2 separate regions of the Homo sapiens genome follow, and region 1 is linked to region 2. The links come from fine-mapping of genetic effects on gene expression. A gene starts in region 2. The other region holds a variant in brackets. All regions are shown on one strand. Distances are from middle to middle.

Region 1 (2,913 bases), 110 kb after region 2:
TGAATTACCAATACTTAAACCTTTGCATATACACTTTTCCAAATTTGCTAGTATTAATATTACTATTTTTTATTAACATTTTTTTTAATGGGTGAGTTAGGTGGGCAGCTAATCATTTGCCCTCACTGAGCAGACTATCATTTTTATAAGTTTAAGTTCCATAGCTGAGGAAGAAAAGTTCTTTGCTAAGCACACTATTGTAGACCACATCAAGATGCATAAATTGAATATAAAATTTTCAAAGAGAAGTAGAGAAAACAATTTATTTCTTGACTTCCCTTAGAAATGTCCCTAACTCTTCTCACCAACAAATCATCTAGGAGTATAGAGGTGATGTAGTTTCATCTTCCCTGTTTTTAAGAGGACTTCTTTTTTTAACACCTCCTAACTGCAGTTCACATAACGAAGTCAAATGATGTGTACCGCCTGTTCAACTATGGCAAGGTAGAGATCTGTTCCAGTGTGGAGTTTTCTAAATTCAATTTGCAGAGGTGAGCTGGTGCAGCCACAGCATCTAGACCAAACTTGATTCTAGTTTGGAGATACTCTCTTCTGGTTACATAACTGAGGAACCACATGACAAGAATACTGCTAGCAAGGTCTCCACGGAGGAGTTGAACCAAAACTCATTTGGAAAGAATTGCTTGCCGTTTGGTCTTACTTTCTCTCCCACTTCCAGAGAGTTTTTGTATAATGGATTATTGCTTCTTCCTCTATCGATTTGCAAAGCAAAAACCATACATTTTAGAATTATCACTGGAAATTACCTGATCTTTCTTTGCAAAAACAAAAACAATTCTGATCACATAAAATTTTAAAGCACTACCTTGATCAAATAGTTTTATGCAATTAGTTAAGAGACTCATATGCTTTTTGCCCTTTAGTTCCTTTTGGGTTTGTGTAGCATCTGCAACACAAATCCTGAATGTACAAATTTTCCTCTTTGCCAGAGTTTCTGCAACATTCATGCAGCTCTTACTTACACTCATCCAGCTTTGGCCACTGACTAAATCTCTCATCTAATGACATGATATATCCAGCTCAGTTTTCCTCTCTAAAAAGTTTGAGCCCACAGCACATTCATTGATATCACCAGAATCCTGGAAACTTGCACGTACTCTGTGTTCTTGGATATGGTCAGGAAGATTTGTCTGGAATTTCAGTAGATGACTTGACTCTTCATACATATAAGGGATTTTCAGCATGCTTTGTGGAGCCACCTCCACAAAGAGACCTTCTTAATAGTAAGCTCTTTGCAGAGCAGAAATGATTTTGCAAACTGGATCTTTGCATAAGCATGGGTGAAACCGCTGTAGTTTTCCCGGGAACTCTATTAGGATGTGCTTGCTAGCTACTTTTAACACACAGCTGCCAAATCTTAGTGGCTAATATCAAATTTTATTTCTCATTCACACGATAGCACAGTCTGGGTCAGCATCTCTAGTGGGATGGCTCC[C/T]CTCCAAGAAATAACTCTCCTTCCAGTGGTAGCTCAGGAATCCAAACTCCTTCATCATGTGGCTTTTGCAGTGTTAGAGTCCCTCACTTCCCATTCTGCTGAAAAGCTATCAAAGTATGAGCTGAGAGTCTTCTAGGAGATTTTAGGGGCCAGATTGGGAAGTATCATCCTAGCCTTAACTGTGTAACTTTACAGAGCAAGGGATGCTGGGAAGTTTTCTTGTGTGACCAGAAAGAGGAAATGGGAAGGTGAACACTGAGGCAGTCTCTGCTGCAACACTGTCACGAGCCTTTCTTCCTCACTTGTACTCCTGAACTGATGGCCTGCCCCTAGACAGCCACTCATTAGCACAGCTGACAGGCTCCTCTTCTCAGGCAACCAGCACAGCCCTCTCTTTTTTGCTTTACACTCCTGGTCTGGATGAAGACAGTGACTTAGAGTGGAGGAATCTATTCTTTAGGTATGATTATGTTATGATTGCTCATTTGTTTTTTATTTTTATATGGACTAACTTGCTCCATTGAAGCCTACAAAAATGTAAACCTGGGGGCAATGTCCTCTTCTAAAAATGAACTGACCAAATGATCTTTTAATATAGAAGGGAACCTACCTTCAAGGGCATTCGAGGCCCACAGCTCTTCACTGGGGCTGCTGCAAACCCGTAAGTCCCCCCTTTCTGTTCCCGTCTTCTGGCAGGTGGCTTCACGGGAAGGTAGCATAGAAGTCTAGGGTTGAGTCCTGGGTCAGGCTCAAGCTGTGTGACCTTGAGGTGAAGTAAAATTAACCATATAAAGCCCTAGCCCAGTATCTGGGATTTAGTTCTTAGGATATCTTAGTGCTTGTTATGATCTATTATTATTGAGAAGAAAGAGGTTTTCCTCAGTGAGTGAGTTGGCTCATGACCATGATATGCTTGGGACTCTTTAACAATTTAAAACTTTTTTCTTTTTCAACAAGCTTTATTGGGGTATATAACTGACCAGTAAAAATTGTATATATTCAAGGTGTATAACATGATTTGATACATGTATGCATAGCATAATGATCACCACAGTCCAATTAACCAACATATTCATCAATTATTTTTCTTCACACTCTTCCTTCTCTGCCCCAATTCACCCTATTTTTTATTCTAAAAACGAGACCCCTGTCTCAATCAGATAATTTTTTCTCATTGAAGGAATCTCAAGGGTCATTCTGAAACGGATTAACGAAGACATACAACATATTTTATTTGGATTCCATAATATTGAAAATAAGCCAAAACTGACAGGTAAATATCAGGAGTTTCCACCTAAACATGTGAAGTTTCTTCTTCTTAAAAAAAAAAAAGGCAGAAAATGTTATAGCAATAGGCTTTTATGCCAGCTGGGCCAGAGTCACTGGGGGCTGAGTCTCCCCTCCCTACAGGGTGAGTCCCGTCTACTCACTGTAGCTCCCACCACTACCTCTCTTTT
Region 2 (2,913 bases):
CGCCGGGGCCTGCAGCCCCTGATCCTCGTGCTCCGGCTTGGTAGTGGCGGTGAAGGGGCGCATGCTGGTGATCGAAGGAGACGCGATGCGCCACAGCAGGCTCTTGAGCGCCTTGCGGAACTCGCGGCGCACGAGGCAGTAGAGGACGGGGTTGAGGCAGCTGTTGGAGTGCGCTAGGCACACGCTCACAGGGAACGCGTATACCTGGCACAGGAAATACTCCTGGCTGAAGGGCACCGCGTTGAACTTGATGAGGATGCTCCAGGTGGTGAGCGCCTGGTTGGGCAGCCAACACAGGAAGAAGGACAGGACAACGATGGTCACTGATTTGGTGACCTTCGACAGTCTCCGGGCGCTGGCTCCGGTCGGGCGTCCTCCGGCTACCGCGGCCCCTCCTTTGGTCCCCGCCGCGCGGCGGTCGGCGATGAAGCGCACCAGCAGCAGGTAGCACAAGATAATGATGCCCAGCGGCAGCACGAAGCCCAGCAGCACCTTCTGCGAGTGGTAGAGGCCCAGCCAGAACTGCCTGTCGCGGCCCAGCAACTTGTCCGGGAAACGCACCAGGCACAGCTCCTCGCCCATCACCTTGACCGTGGTGGAGAAAATGGCACTGGGCAGCGAGGCCAGCGCGGCCAAAGCCCAGATCCACACACACAGCGCCTTGGCCGAGAAGCAGCAGCTGTCCCCCAGGCTCCGGCCGCAGCAGTCGCCCCGGCCGTGTCCTCGGGTCCGGTGGCTCTTCAGAGCCGAGGCCACCGAATGGTAGCGCGTCACACTCATGGCAGTGAGGAAGAACACGCTGGCGTACATGTTCATGGACGTCACCATGGACACGATCTTACACATGGCCTTGCCGAAGGGCCATTTGAAGTCAAGAGCGTTCTCCACCGCCCAGAAGGGCAGGGTGAGCACAAACTGAAAGTCCGTCAGCGCCAGGTTGGTGACGAAGAGGTTGATAGAGGACTTGCGCCAGCCCTGCATGCTCTTCATCAGGTAGAGAACCAGCAGGTTGCCCGCCAACCCCAGGGCGCACACCACCCAGTACACCACGCTGATGAGAATCCGCACCCGGGCCTCTGTGTCCGCGCTCTCTGCCCCGCCGCTGCCCGGGGGATGTCCTGGCGGCGCGCCGTCCGGCAACTCCAGCCCCAGCTCCCACCACAAGTCCGGAAGCTGCAGCGACGCGTTACCACTCGTGTTGGCCGCCTCCAGAAGGTCCGGGACCAGACTGAAGAGTTCTGCTAGCTTGTCCCCGCCTGCTGCCTTATTCATGGTGGCTATCGTGGCTGCATCGGCCATCTGCATGCGCAGGTACCTCTAGGTCATGTTCTGGGGGACAAGACCTAAGATAACACGGTTTACCCCAGTTTTGTTGCCAGGCTAGCCTGCGGGACGTGCGTGGGAGCTTTCAAAGCAGCTACTGAAGAGAGAGCCCAGGAACTGGGTACTAAGCGCGTCCTGGCGCGCAGCGAACGCCCTGGACGCAGGAGTTGAGCTCAGCGGCTGCTTTGGAGCAGAGTTGAGGAGTGCAGCCCGTAAGGCAAGCACTCGGCGTCCAAGGGTTCTCAGGCCAAGCTCGGAGTCCCTAGGTCCTTATGTACAACGCAGACTTCCCCTCTCCGTGTCCCGCGGTCACTGGGGCACTGGCGCATAACTCCCCCAGCCGCTCAATTGTGCGATTTGGGGCCGCTCGCTCCCTTTCAAATACCTTTATCCGTTTCCTCTGGGACTGCTTGGATGAGGTTTCCGTCCTTGGAGAGAAAGAGATCGTAGAGTTCCATCCACCACGCTCAGCTTCCTGGAGGTCAGTGGGTGTCTGCGTCTCTCCGCGGTTGTCAACTCCGGGTGGGTTGCCAGCGGCTCTCACCAGTTACGGTGGCACTTGCACGGCCAAGGCGGCGGGCCCCAAGGAGCATGCGTAATCCCGGGGCGCCGCGAGGGGCGCTTTCCGAGGTGCTGAACCCAGCCGCGCCCGCGCCGCGAGGGAGAGTTGAGCTGCAGGCAAAGCCCACCCGCCACTCCAGTTTTCCTCTCCAGAGTTTCAGCAGGAAGGGTCTTAAGAGTTTATTTTACAGCTGCAGGAGAAAGTCGGCTTTGACGTGAGTTTCTTCTTCCTTTCTTATTCCCAAACATTATGATTAGAAGTTTTTTTTTTCTTTCTTCCTCACTCCCACTTTTCACCGGAATTATTCCATTTGGTGAGGAATTGTTCTAAAAATATGAGCTATCCTGCTTACTTTCCTTCTTGAAAGTAATAACAGTGGCCTCTTTTCATGCTCAAATGAGATAATGGGTACTTATTGGATACACAAAGGACAGCTCCACCTCCCCTCTTTAATTAGCTGACCACTTACGCAGTACCTGTGTTTGTCAGGATTTTCAAAGGGTCTTCACATGGCAGAAGTCTGGGCTCAAGGGTTGCCCCTACTTTAATGTATTCTGAGAGGTGACACAAAAACAGAGCAAACAACTGATGGTCCTACTTCACAGAAATTAAATGCCCTAAGCCCAAAGCGCTTCAACAAATTGTTTGATCACATACAGGCCACAGTCTCTTTACCTAGATGCAAATAGAATAGAGGATACCACTGGGCTGATCGTGAACCACCAGCCCTCCTATTTCCATTACTGTTAGCATCAGGACTCTTTTTCAGGCGTTTTTCAGACCAATGGAAGTACATTCTAAGGACTCTTCCAAGGGAATGAGTGGAAACCACTTGAATTACTTCTCAAGCTTCAGTCTACATAAATGCCAGGTCAATCGCTCTGGTGTAAATTACACTTTTAGGATTTACTTTAAAATTTTGAAATGTTTTCCTCTTGGTCTGGGACTAAACTGAAACCAAAGTTTCTTAAGCATAATTGTCCTCACTCCTGGAGTACTACAGAACTCCCAGCTTTACTTAAGGAGAT

Alleles and levels. Alleles are on the strand shown, and positions count from the first base shown. SD is a standard deviation of normalised expression in the study named.
With allele C in place of T in region 1, the expression in adrenal gland of the gene that starts at base 1,660 in region 2 is lower (moderate effect, 0.63 SD a copy in GTEx).

Evidence for each region. PIP is the estimated chance that this variant, and not a neighbour inherited with it, causes the effect. A credible set is the group of variants that fine-mapping cannot tell apart.
Region 1: its variant is the best candidate, but not a certain one, in a credible set for the expression of RXFP3 in adrenal gland (GTEx, PIP 0.90).

What each region holds. Positions count from the first base shown.
Region 1 is chr5:33,823,529-33,826,441 of GRCh38, reverse strand. All of the region lies in intron 2 of ADAMTS12 (ADAM metallopeptidase with thrombospondin type 1 motif 12), which reads left to right. Among named protein-coding and RNA genes, the nearest start is that of ADAMTS12, 67 kb to the left of the region's middle. The variant C/T (reference allele first, on the strand shown) is at 1,457.
Region 2 is chr5:33,935,133-33,938,045 of GRCh38, reverse strand. It overlaps RXFP3 (relaxin family peptide receptor 3), which reads right to left and starts at 1,660. Exons shown (of 1, transcript NM_016568.3): 1 at 1-1,660. The coding sequence starts at 1,305.